Homo sapiens: one gene and its partners. The protein of the gene in region 1 purifies or fractionates together with the protein of each later gene. This does not show direct contact. Each region holds a gene or a part of one and is shown in the gene's direction. Other genes may lie near its edges.

Region 1 (3,500 bases):
GGGTGATAGAGTGAGACCTTGTCAATCAGTCAACCAGTAGTCGAATATTACCTAGCATTGCAAATGATGATATAGCTCTATAGTGATGAAAGATGTTCATAGAAAAGCAACATCATAAAGGTTTTATTGAAAACTCTCTATAAGAGTAAACTCCAGAATGTAAAGTGGTATTGGGGTGGTGAGGTTATGGGTCATTTTTGTTTTATATTTAGTAATTTATTTTCTAATTTTTCTTCTAAGATCATTGATTATTTGTATGGTTTTTAAAACCTCACCTATATAACCATTTCATTTAATGTTGAATTTTGAATTCAGTTCTCATTTTGTCATTATTTAGAAGATAAATTTTGTCCTTAAGGGAACAACTTTAAAATTTAGATTTGTTGTGTTTTTAGCTGTTGAAAGATTGCTGCCCTATTTAAAATATGATTTCCTTATTTATAGTGGGAAAGTAAAACTGTCCTGCGCAATGAGCCTTTGGTTTTAGAGGGAGGCTATGAAAACTGGCTCCTTTGTTATCCCCAGTATACAACAAATGCTAAGGTCACTCCACCCCCACGACGCCAGAATGAAGAGGTGTCTATCTCATGTATGTATGTGAAAATTTTTGTTTAAAATTGCTTTGGTAAAATATGGTTTAAAATTGTTTTCCCGGTAACATTCTTGGTTGTGTGTGTATTTGTCCTATTAGAGAGCAGTTTGTTTTCAGGCATAAAAATATAAGCCTGGAAGTTCACATTTTCTTTAAGACTGTTGTAATTGTTTTTTCACTTAGTTTACATTTAATTACTGCATTAACACGCATGAGAAATGTAAGTACTGTGTATGGGGTTTGCTATTCTAAAAAACATTTTTATTTTTGGAATTTTAGTGGATTTTACTTATCCCTCATTGGAAGAATCAATTCCTTCTAAACCTGCTGCCCAGACGCCACCTGCATCTATAGAAGTAGATGAAAATATAGAATTGATAAGTGGTCAAAATGAGAGAATGGGACCACTGAATATATCAACTCCAGTTGAACCAGTTGCTGCTTCTAAATCTGATGTTTCACCCATAATTCAGCCAGTGCCTAGTATAAAGAATGTTCCACAGGTATGTTCTTGATTTTAACATTATTCTCGCTTTTGTTTTAATATTAAATATATAGTATAGCTGGGCACAGTGCCTCACGCCTGTAATCCCAGCACTTTGGGAGGCTGAGAGGGGCAGATCACCTGAGGTCAGGAGTTTGAGACCAACCTGGCCAACATGGTGAAACCCCCCTCTCTACTAATAATACAAAAATTAGCTGGGCATGGTGGTGGGTGCCTATAAATCCAGCTGTTTGGGAGGCTGAGGCATGAGAATTGTCTGAACCCAGGAAGCGGAGGTTGCAGTGAGTCGAGATTGCACCACTGCACCCCAGCCTGGGTGACAGCAAGACTCTGTCTCAAAAAAAAAAAAAAGAATTAAATACATAGTATAGAAACGAAGTTTAATATATAACCTTTAACATCTTAGAAAAAAGTATCGATGAGAACAGTCTGTATGTTTTGATAAATTTTTTGTTTAAAAATTTTTCATCATAATTCAGCATTACCGCCACGCCTATATTAGAGTAGATAATTAAGGGGTTTCCAAGCCAGTTGGCGATCCATTTGCTACAAACAATGCCAATGAAAGATTGCATTATCACAGTGAATTAGAATAGCCCTTTTGGGATTTTTTGTATTATAATTTGACCCATATTATTTTCATAAATAGCTTGGCTTACATATGATAGGTATGTGATGTCAGTATTTTGGTTTTAAAACAGTGCTTTAGTTTCATTTCCTTAGAATTTGACACGCAAATAACAGGCATGTTTAACAATAATCATGTAAAAGTTTTTAAATAACCAAGACATTACAAATAAAAAAATTTTAGTTTTTATATCCTTCATTTGGCTTTATTTAAAGAAAGGTTAACTAATGTTCCCCCTCCATGCATTTCCCAATAACATTTTTTAGCATTCATTTTTAATTTTTTCCCCAGATATATTTAAAACAGTATTTCACATTTAAAGTGGATGACGTTTGATTTGTGGAGCAGGTATTGAATAGAAAATCTGGTAATTTTTTGTTATAAACTGAAGTGGTTCATTTCTTCATTTTTTTAAGGTCTTTTAGTATTGCAGAATAAATTGCAGACTAAATAGATGTGATTAAACAACTTTTCTTAAAGGGTGAATTTAGGAAAGTCTAAAAAGAGCTTCTCTATGTTATTGCATTTCCTTTCAACTTAATCTATTTAAACGCTAATCCTTTTGTGTCCCAACATAACTTTATGAGATACGTACAATTTTCAGACATATTTTGAAGATCTTCTATATAAAAAACAGCATGAGGGCTGGGTGCCATGGCTCGTGCCTGTAATCCCAACACTTTAGGAGGCGGAGGCAGGTGGGTCACCTGAGGTCAGGAGTTCCAGACCAGCCTGGTCAACATGGTGAAACCCCATCTCTACTGAAAATACCAAAATTAGCCAGGCGTGGTGGTGCGTGCCTGCAGTCCCAGCTACTCAGGAGGCTGAGGCAGGAGAATCACATGAACCCAGGAAGCAGAGTTGTAGTGAGCCGAGATCAGGCCACTGCACTCCAGCCTGGGTGAGAGTGAGACTCTGTCTCAAAAAAAAATAAAAATAAAAATAAGACAGCATGAAAGTTTGTATATACAAGAGATGGGTTCTTCTGATGTTTGGAAGGAGAGATCTGTATAAAATCAGCCACAGCATAAGGCAGAATATCATAATTGCTCTACAAGGCACTGGAGCACAGAGCAAGGAGAATATTCTAGCTGAGAAGATCAAGGACGTCTTCATGGAGGAGACAGTATTTTATCTGGGCTTTAAGAGTAGGATTGGAGGATAGAAGAAACAAGTAGAAAATTCTATGACCAAAGGCATAGGGCATGCTCTGGGGCCAGTGAACAGTTTTGGCATATGTGGGCGCTAGTCTCTGTTGGAGAGAGGAAGTTATGATAGTAGATAAGATTAGAAGGATGGACAAGAGTCATCAAGAGAGACTTGGATCAAATTTGAATTTTGTCCTGTAGGCACAAGGAACCATTAAAGAATTTTAAACTTGAGAGTAACATGATCATAACTATACTTTTAAAATTAGGGAAAAATAGATCAAGCCACCAAAATGTAAATGGAAACAACATTTATTTTTGTTTCTGTTCCACCTCTTATTGTTAACCTCATCCCCATAGTGGTTCTTCCTACTTTATTCTCAAATACATGCAAAAAAAAAGACAAAGGATTTTTTTTAAGAGGCAGAAAGAGAAGTGAACAGGAAAAAAATTATTTTTTCTACACTAACCTCGTTTTCTTTTTCTTTTCTTTTTTTTTTGAAAACGGTCTCACTCTCTCACCCAGGCTGGAGTGCAGTGGCGTGATCACAGCTCACTGCAGCCTCGACTTCCTGGGTTCAAGCAATCCTCCCACCTCAGCCTCCTGAGTAGCTGGGATTATAGGCA
Region 2 (2,488 bases), on another chromosome or scaffold:
GTGCCTTTATCATGGCTACGCAGTTAATAAGCAGAAGAGCTGGGACCTGCACCCAAGTCTCATGCCTCCCAAATCCGTCCTTGTTGAATAGCTTCCTACTGAAGCTGCTGCCACACAGGCCTGTGTGTTATGATGATGATGCACTTCTATATGCATTTAGCTCTTCATCAACCACAAAGCCCCTTCACACCCTGGTGTATCTGATTCAACTCTCCTTCCTGTGAGCTTGATTGGCACCATCCAGGCTGGCCACCATCACTCAAACTAGGGGCACTGTTCATAATCTTACCCACTGCTGCTGAAAATCAGAAAGCCTTGTCTTCATGGTTAAAACCATCAAAGAAAGAAAGCATTTAATGCAGATTTGAGGGAGCCCTTCTTGCCTTTCAGGGGTAGACTCTGTACACAGGATGACCCTCTCTGTCCCCAAGCAACCATCAGTCTCAAGGAATCCAACTCAGTGTCTGGAACTAACAGAGTTTTCTTTCTCCATAGGCTGTGTGAAGGTGTGGGCTCTGTGAATGTCTGTGAGTATCTGCCTGAAATTCTCCTGGAAAAATGGCTTTTTTGATAGAAAAGCTGAACTCATTGGCCTAACCCATGGAGCCTCGAGTGTTCCCCCAACTGTTTCACCCTCCCCTGGCTCCTCAGTGGGGGCCATGACAGGTGTTAGAGAAAGCTGAGCTGAGTGCTCTTCGCAAGTGTTGACAGTGAGCTATAGGCCATGGACCTGTGGCCTGGCAGCTTTGCTCCCCGGGGTCCAGGGGTCCTCACTTCCTTCCTGCCCCAGTTCCCTAGATGGGCTGTGCATCTCAGGGACAGGGCCTGCATTGTTGACCACCAATTCCTTGGAGAGGGAGGCAGCTCCTGCAGTGCCCTGGGGCCTGTTGTAGGGTGGGTGAGATTGCAGGGAGCTGCTCACCCCTCCATGTCTCCTCTCTCCACAGGTGTCAGCAGCTCCCGTGGTGGAGTCTCCTGTGGGGGCCTCTCCTACAGCACCACCCCAGGGCGCCAGATCACTTCTGGCCCCTCAGCCATAGGCGGCAGCATCACGGTGGTGGCCCCTGACTCCTGTGCCCCCTGCCAGCCTCGTTCCTCCAGCTTCAGCTGCGGGAGTAGCCGGTCGGTCCGCTTTGCCTAGTAGAGTCATGGAGCCAGGGCTTCCTGCCAAGCACCTGCCTGCCTGCATCACTGCACTGAATGGCATGTGAATGGAAAATGTGTGCTTGCTTCCAGAATCTTCTGGATGTTCCTACAGAGGGAAAGACCTACAGAGGGAAAGACCCTCGGGCCGCTCCCCTGCGCCTTTTCATGCTAGGGAGATGCATCCTAGTTGTCCTCCTGGCAGCTGTTTTCAGAGGCATTCCCAGCCCTTCACTTAACTCCTACTTAGCTCCAAAATACCTGTATCCAATTTGTATTATTCCCCCAGCTCTCAGGGACAAGACCAGTCCCCCAGCGTGGTGGTCAGCACGGAAGCTCCACCTTCTGGGTGGAGGCGCCATCCTAACCATCCAGCCAGGCCACCCACAACCCGAGAATCAGGGAGAAAGTCCCTCCCCAGCAGCCCCCTCCTCCTGGCTGGGAAGAATGGTCCCCCAGCAAGCACTTGCCTGTTCATTCCTGTTCATGTTTTGCTTCTCTCTCAGACTGCCTTCCTGCTTCTGGGCTAACCTGTTCCAGCCAGGCTCCTCATGTGACCTCGCAGTTGAGAAGCCCATTATCGTGGGGCATCCTTTTGCCTACAGCCCCTGGTTAGGGCACTTTGGACAGGTCTTGCTATTCAGTGAACCTTTGTACATTTCAAAGAAGACTCCATGGCTGCTCCAGATGCCCCCTTGCTGGGTGCAGGTGGGGACTGTCCAATGCAGAGCTGGCGGGACAGAGAGTTAAGCCACTTCCTGGGTCTCCTTCTTGTGACTGTCTATGGGTGCATTGCCTTCTGGGTTGTCTCGATCTGTGTTTCAATAAATGCCGCTGCAATGCAAGAGCGTGTGGTCTTGTGAGCAACTTCTCCACTCCCTTCTTGCCTCATCTCCAGATGACCAATCCCAGTCCAGCCCCATGCAGTGTTTCCCCAGTCACCCCCCAGAAACTCTGCTGCTTCCTGTCCACTTCCACAGTCTGATTCCACTCAGTCGCCCTCAGTCCCCTCAGGCCTGGACTACAGCCCAGCTCCCCACTAATGACCTCTTTCTCCCTGACCCACCCTGCGTACTCCCAGCAGCCAAAACTCCATCCCAAACTCACTGCTCTCACCCTCTCCTGCCTGGCTCAAGTCACTTCCTGGCACATGTGTGTGCTTCTTATGCCAAATGCAGGCTTCCTCTGTCACCTCCTTCCCCAGCTACTCCTCAGCCCTGTCCAACCCCTCCATGCGGTGCTCATCCTCCCAGTCATGGACTCCACCCCAAGGAGACAAGTCTACCCTCTGAGGCAGCCCAGAGACACTCTCTCCTACATACCCCTTGTGGACACATAGGCCATC
Region 3 (3,500 bases), on another chromosome or scaffold:
AGTGACCGATCACAGTGAACAGCAAACTCTTGGAGCCCTCTTGGGCCTGTGCTTTGAGGCCCCTGCCTGCCCTGGCATTTCTGGGACCCTGTGGGTTATCAGGCCTGAGGCTTCTGGACATCCCCCAAACACAACTTAATCACCCAACTGTCTCCTTCCCATTGGGGACTCTCCAAAAGGACTGATGGTTGCTCTGAAATAGCCAGAGAGCTGGGACACAGGACGAGCAAAGCTTCTCTTGGGGTCTCATTGGACCTGGGCCATCTCCCCCAACATAGTCCCACAGCCTGGCCCCAGGGTGGTACCCTGATGATTTTTCAGAGTTGTGTGGTGTTGGTAGTTGGCAGGGGCAGCTCTTAGCGCTGGAGGTGGGAGGCTGGGAATGAATGACTTGAGCCAAGATCGGCTCCTCCCCACTCCTCATGGTGGAGATCCCAGTGTGAGGGACCTGCAGCTGAAGTCTATCCATACAGGCAGAGAGACTGAGAGGTGATTCTCAGATGAGTGTGGGCTGGTCACTTGCAGGTCTTCCTAAAGCCCGTGCTGGCGTTTCTGATTCAGCAGATCTGTGGGGGGCAGGGGCTTCTTCACTCTTAATCAGTTCCCAGCTGATGTTGATGCCGCTGGTTCAGATGCCATACTCTGAGAACCCATGCGCTCAGGTCACAGGGCACCTGGCTGCTTGTGAGTTTCCTGTGGTCTCTGGGCTGGCACAGCTAGTTGTAGCCGATATCCTATCAGTTAATTTTAACTTGGAGTCTTTTAGAGAACAGAGTCCTGTTCTGACGGTTCACCGAGTTGAACAGCTTGGTGGGCTGGCCTTCCCATCGCTTCTCATCCGTCTCAAGGCTGTGCACCCGGGCCCTAGGCGCTTACGTACAACCTATGGGTTCTGAGATCACAGCCCAGAAACAACCCACAGTTGAGCTAAAATGGCTGGTTTTGGTCAAATGTGACTTTGGGTTCTGTTTTCTTTTGGTACTTACTTTTTTTCCTCTGAAAAACTACGTGATCCTTTTAATTCTTACCTAGAAATCAAAGGAAAGTTACTTAGTAGCTTAGGTAGAATTTCATGTCCTAGTATGATTTATAAGAGAGGAAAGAGCCACTGTGGAAGTGACTATGCTGTTACCCCAAGCACCTAGTGAGAATAACGAAGAGCCTTCTGTAAGCAGCAGAAAGATGTTCTAAAAATCACTTGTTCAAAAATGCATTGCTGTTAAATGTTCACATGACAAAATGTGACCTCTGACGTGCTTCTGACAGAATTCCCTTGGAAATGTCTGAAAAGAAATGTAAGGTTCTTCTGTTTAGAAACCTGGTTGCCAGAGCTGTTCAGCGAGGTGGCCTGGCCACATGGCCTTGGTTACGTGCATTTTGTCCTTGTGGCCTTCACGGCATCTTTCTGTTCATCTTTTGTTTTGTTTTGTTTTGTTTTTGAGTCAGAGTCTCGCTCTGTCGCCAGGCTGGAGTGCAGTGGTGCGATCTCAGCTCACTGCAACCTCCGCCTCCCAGGTTCAAGTGATTCTTCTGCCTCAGCCTCCTGAGTAGCTGGGACTACAGGCGCCCGCCACCATGCCCAGCTAATTTTTTGTATTTTTAGTAGAGACGGGGTTTCACCGTGTTAGCCAGGATGGTCTCGGTCTCCTAACCTCGTGATCCGCCCGCCTTGGCCTCCCAAAGTGCTGGGATTACAGGCGTGAGCCACCGCGCCTGGCCATTCTGTTCATCATTCTTTGCGCCTTCCTGTATGGATATTCTTGTCCTCTGAATTTTGTCCCATGAATTTGAGATCCCTCTGGGAAGCATTTTTCTCTCTAATCTTAAACCTTCTGCTCTCAGAAGACTTAGTGGCCCTTCTCTATTCCTCTGTCATGATTCAACGTCTTTGAACTGTGATGTATATACAGGTGTCCTCGTGCCCTGTCCCCACTGTCTAGTGAAGTTATGTAGAATATGTATTCCACACACGAATTAAGTTCTGCTACTTAAGTTTCTTTTTCACAGATCTGCACACATGGATATGAATGAAGTGTGTATTGAATAGAGAGGGTGGGAGTGGCACTTCCAGATGCAACTGACTGGAAGACACGCTGTCCCCTGGGGGCTCTAGCTGATGAGGACAGCCTGTGTCCTGCGGTGTCACTTTCTGAACTTGGGGCACCATGATACCTACTCAGGGAGGGAGGTTGCTGGGGCTTCCCCGGGTGTACCTGGCCCACCATATGTTCAGCTGTCTCACTGGAACAATATTGATTCAGTCATTCTTTATATGATAATGGGAATCGATTATTCTGCTCAGTCACTGGGCATTAGGTGGGTTTTCTTGGCAAGACTGAAGCTGTGGGGCTCTTGTTAGGGAATGAGAAAAAGGAGCATTGAAAATCCAAGTGCTGTGATTTCTCGTCATATTAAAATAACAAGGACACCCTCTGCTAAAATGAGGAGTGTCCTCACATGGCCTTTTAAAGCGTTGGCCCTGGCTCCCCCAGGCTTCTGCAGGGTGAACTGCTCTTCCCTTAGAGACTCCCCATATTTGGGGAGACACTAATCCCAGAGCCGTGGTCTGTCTCCAGGTGATGACAATGGGAAGAAGGCCAACAACCCCAACCACTGCAACTGCATCATAGACCAGATCTTCACAGGCGGGTTGCAGTCAGACGTCACCTGCCAAGTCTGCCAGTAAGTGAGAGGCTGCGTGCTCGGCAATATCAAACCCTCTGGGGCCGTACTGACATCCTCCCAGTCTCCAGAGCTGTGTGTGCTCTGAGAGGTCTTTAAGGAGGCTATGAGATAAATGATTAATAGACGCCATGAGAGCGAAGGTTGTGGGGTGGGGGTGCTTCCTCTTGGGGAGGTCGTAGGGCAGGTGTCCCCTCGGGATGCGAGCCCTTCGTGTTGAGGTCTTGGCTGTTGTCTACAGCCAGCAGTGTGTTCTTGGAAGCTTCCCCTACCATTTTGCATCTTACAGTCCTTGACCAGGGACCAAGTGAAAGAGCCCTCTTCAAGAAGGCGTGGATCATGCATGGTGGATTGTTTTTCTACGTGCTTCGAAGTGTGTTAGTTTTCATTATTTTATGGTTTCTGGTTCCATTTTCTGATGTAGTGGCCCTAATTCTTCTCAGATGTGGTCTCTGCTTAGAGCCTCAAGTGTTGAGTGCAGGGAGAATCCATTGCTTTGTTAGGTCAGGGGACCCTCTCACCCAACCTCAGTGCATGCTACAGGTTTTTTGTTTTTGTTTTTGTTTTTTTCAGGCATGGGGTCTTGTGTATGTTGCCCAGGCTGGCCTTGAACCCATGGGCTCAAGCGATCCTCCCTCCTTAGCCTCCCAAGTAGCTGGGACTACAGGCATGGGCCACCGTGCCTGGCTCTGTTCTTTACTTCAGTTGAAGTTTAAAAACCCTGGACATGATCCACCGAAATTATTTCAGAACCCGAAATGGACTGTCACTTCTAAACTGCATAAGACGAGCAAATATCGGGAAAGGCCAGTGCTGCC
Region 4 (3,500 bases), on another chromosome or scaffold:
TATCAAATTTCACTTTAGTTTTCAATAATCCTATTTACCTTTATTTAAGTCTCCATTCTCAACTCATTACATTTGTCTCTTCTTGAGAAAAATATTTAAAGTCGATAGTAAAATACTTAATTCTAATAACTATTAGTATATTAATGGCATGGAAAGACTTGACTGCAACTTCGGCACATGCTCTAGCAAAAGGCATAGTCAAATGTAATTTAAAATCAAAGCTTTATTTTTAAGAGATCTCATTTGAATTAAAGCGTTTAAGTTCTTCTGCTCTCAGGGAGCTGCAGATGGAGATGTAAGGAGTGACAAGGGGCTGTGGAGCCAAGGCTGACCTCAATGCCGGGTGCCCAGAGAGCTGCTGCTCCTGGTACTCAGCCCCTTGGATTTTTTAGACTGTTCCTTCTGCTTTCCTGACATTTCTCCCACTCCTAAATATTTTGAACAAGAAAGGGCCAGAAATGTCAAGAATAGTAACAAACACCAAAAAAACCTTACTTCCTAGGCCCCACCTCCAGAAATTCAGATTCATTCAGACTGGTGAAGACCAGGAATGTATGTTTTTAACAAATGCTGCCAAGTGACTGTGATGCAGTTCAGGAAAGGGGCCAGAGGAGCCTCAGGCTGGTCACACTTAGTGCCTGTAGCTTTGGGCATCCATCCAGTCTAGGGGGCCATGAAGAGCAATGGAAATGTAATCTAACATGGTGCATAGACGGCAAAAAGCGTGGTCCAGCTGCTAAGACTCTGCTCTTAACAAGAACTTTGCACAACTCCTCTTAGACAGACCTTGGTCTACATATAAAGCACCAACTCAGTATCCTAGAGGTGAAGGCATGAATATATGTGATATGTCCAGCTGCGTTGGTCTTCTCATGTATCAAATAAGAAATATACCTGTTTCCCCCTGGTGAATAAAAGTGCAGTTTATAGTCTGTAGATCAATGCCAGGGATTCTGTAAACATATAATTATGCCCTTTTATTATAAGAGGGTATTAACTTACCATACAAGACTTGGAAAAATGAAGATATTAAACTAGTTTGGGAAGGTGCAGCAGGGAGGAACAACCAGTTGCCAAAATTTGATTCATGGCAAAGTGAGCAACTACCAAAAAAAAAGGGAACAATTTTTGTTACCTGTTTTTGGGCAGCTGTCACATTAAACATTATTTGATGGTATCTATGATAGTGGAGATCGACAGGTAGCTACATGTTACAGGATACTCGGTGTCCAATTCGATAATTCGTATCTTATTAAGATGAAAGAGTATAACTCATTAATGCAAATGACAACTGCATGGGTGCTTAAAGAAAAGACAACTTTGCAATTAAGTTACTAGAGTATTAAAAAAGAACTAATGAAGAGCTGTCTGATGACTTAGTTCACATACTATGGAACTGTGGAGTGTTTTTGTAGAATCTCAAAATTATATGAAAGTCATGTATCATGAATTTTTTTATAGAATGTAAATAAAGACTATACTTTCAGGGATCATTTCTATAGTTTGTTACTAGAATGTAAATAAACTTAGTGATGAATTACTATAAGCATCTACACAATCATATTTTACTTTGAGTAATGATGAAATCCTAGCTAAAATAACTTCTGTTCTGCCTGGTCATATTTCTAGATATGATAGGTTTGTCTTCAGCTCTATCGTTGCATGAATGTGATGAGATGTATGCAAAGTTTATCTTTTTATACTTGATTGTTTTTGTTATTTTTCCCCTAGCAATTGAAATATGTGAGCAAAAGCAGATGACACTGGCAAAATACTGTAATTTTTTACAAACAGAATTAGGGCCAATTTTACACATCATCACATAGAAACTGTCTATTGATATAGCTCCAAAGATTCTGTTTGTCTGACCCTCATGGACTATACTTCTTCATTTCCAGTCTAGTATTTTCTGCTAAATTGTAGGGTTTTTTTTTCTTTCACATTCTCTCACCATCAAACTGTCCATCACGGCTAAATTACTCCCTCACTTCAAGCCTTTCCTTGGCTATTCAACTGTCTTTGTCAGCCTTTCAAGCCTTTGTTCTTATTTGACTGCTGTTTTAAATTGATGCTGTTTTCATACATCAATTTCACTTCCTAACTTGTCACTTCAGAATCTAAAATGACCCTTCCTAAGTAAAAGGGAAGCTCCCTTTCTTATGACCACTGGGGGAGTGTTATTTCTGTGGCCTTCACACCCACCTCCCACTCTTACTCAGCATTCTTTGGCACTAGTCCCTGGGCTGTCATCAAATGTACCCATGATACCGTGGTACCATCTAGCTGGTGCATAGTTTAGCTTTATGGCTCAGCCATCTCTTCTTTGTTCGGTCCAGGAAATCCCAGGTCAGGTGCCCATTTCATTTTTTCTTGTTCTCTATGGCCAGAAGATGCAGTCATTAGACAGAAATGTAATGTTGCTTACTGAGGAAGAAGACTCCCCTGGATTTCATTTACTTCCTACAAGGAGATACAGCTCAATAGTTCAACACCAGAAGAGAAACTCCTTTATATTCAGATAGTGAACATATTTCTAAGAAGCCTAAATAATCCTACCTTTAGATACTCTATTTAGAATTCATTACTAAGCTCCTGCAAAGTCTTAGCTTTGCTTGTTTTTAATTATTAAACAATCTTTGACTAATTTGTCCTTTTCTAAATCCTCCAATTACTACTATGTGCTGAAAATTAGCCTATATTCCCTATGCCTGCCACATCATGTTACTCACTTCTTCCCAGCTTTCAGCCCTGGCTAAGGTTGTGTATATCAAAGCCTGGAAACATTTCTAGCTTTAGCGCAGCCTTACTGTACTTTTAAAACCAGTGTGAGGCATTGAAAAGACTTGCCCGGGGATTGTGAATCTTCTTCTGGCTCTGTCTATAGCTAAATATTTCCTATACCCTGAGAACCTCTGAGAACCTCAATTTTTATCAGCTAAATGGATAATCGGCAATTAGAAGCATAAATTGAACTAGACAACTTTGGGGATTCTTGTTGGTTTCTACTGACTTACATCTTTTTAGTGAGACGGAGTCTCTCTTTGTCACCCAGGCTGGAGTGCAGTGGCGTGATCTCTGCAAGCTCCGCCTCCCGGGTTCAAGCGATTCTCTTGCCTTAGCCTCCCGAGTAGCTGGGACTACAGGCTCCCACCACCACACCTGGCTAATTTCTTGTATTTTTTGTAGAGACGGGGTTTCACCATGTTAGCCAGGATGGTCTGAATCTCCTGACCTCATGATCCACCCGCCTCCCAAAGTGCTTATAGGCGTGAGTGCATTATAGGCGTGAGCCACCACGCCTGGCCAGATCTTTTTCTTATCCTCAGTAATGGAGAAGGCGTGGACTTTAGATAGCTAGATATTGATAAGAAGTTAAATGGGATGTATAGCCTGAGGGTCCAAAGCCCAGTAAGGGAACTTTAAAGTATATAACAATGAAAGATGAAAACCAATCTTTTCTGGCTGGAGAAAACACCCTGAAGTAGGTTTTGTTTGTTTGT

Evidence for each region. Proteins that work in one complex are often made in the same cells at the same time.
Region 2: the proteins of USP8 (region 1) and KRT85 purify together in Homo sapiens (affinity purification with mass spectrometry; one large-scale study listed by BioGRID and IntAct). This does not show direct contact.
Region 3: the proteins of USP8 (region 1) and USP22 purify together in Homo sapiens (affinity purification with mass spectrometry; one large-scale study listed by BioGRID and IntAct). This does not show direct contact.
Region 4: the proteins of USP8 (region 1) and GJA1 purify together in Homo sapiens (affinity purification with western blotting; one study listed by BioGRID). This does not show direct contact.

The regions. Positions count from the first base shown.
Region 1 is NC_000015.10:50,476,405-50,479,904, forward strand, and holds part of USP8 (ubiquitin carboxyl-terminal hydrolase 8), read left to right. Parts: intron 1-444; coding exon 445-589; intron 590-871; coding exon 872-1,095; intron 1,096-3,500. UniProt on the Homo sapiens protein: Hydrolase that can remove conjugated ubiquitin from proteins and therefore plays an important regulatory role at the level of protein turnover by preventing degradation. Converts both 'Lys-48' an 'Lys-63'-linked ubiquitin chains.
Region 2 is NC_000012.12:52,359,506-52,361,993, reverse strand, and holds the end of KRT85 (keratin, type II cuticular Hb5), read left to right. Parts: intron 1-495; coding exon 496-527; intron 528-947; coding exon 948-1,141; 3' UTR 1,142-1,988; downstream 1,989-2,488.
Region 3 is NC_000017.11:21,012,012-21,015,511, reverse strand, and holds part of USP22 (ubiquitin carboxyl-terminal hydrolase 22), read left to right. Parts: intron 1-2,576; coding exon 2,577-2,682; intron 2,683-3,500. UniProt on the Homo sapiens protein: Deubiquitinase that plays a role in several cellular processes including transcriptional regulation, cell cycle progression or innate immunity.
Region 4 is NC_000006.12:121,442,146-121,445,645, forward strand, and holds part of GJA1 (gap junction alpha-1 protein), read left to right. Parts: intron 1-1,471; exon of another isoform or gene 1,472-1,548; intron 1,549-3,500. UniProt on the Homo sapiens protein: Gap junction protein that acts as a regulator of bladder capacity. A gap junction consists of a cluster of closely packed pairs of transmembrane channels, the connexons, through which materials of low MW diffuse from one cell to a neighboring cell.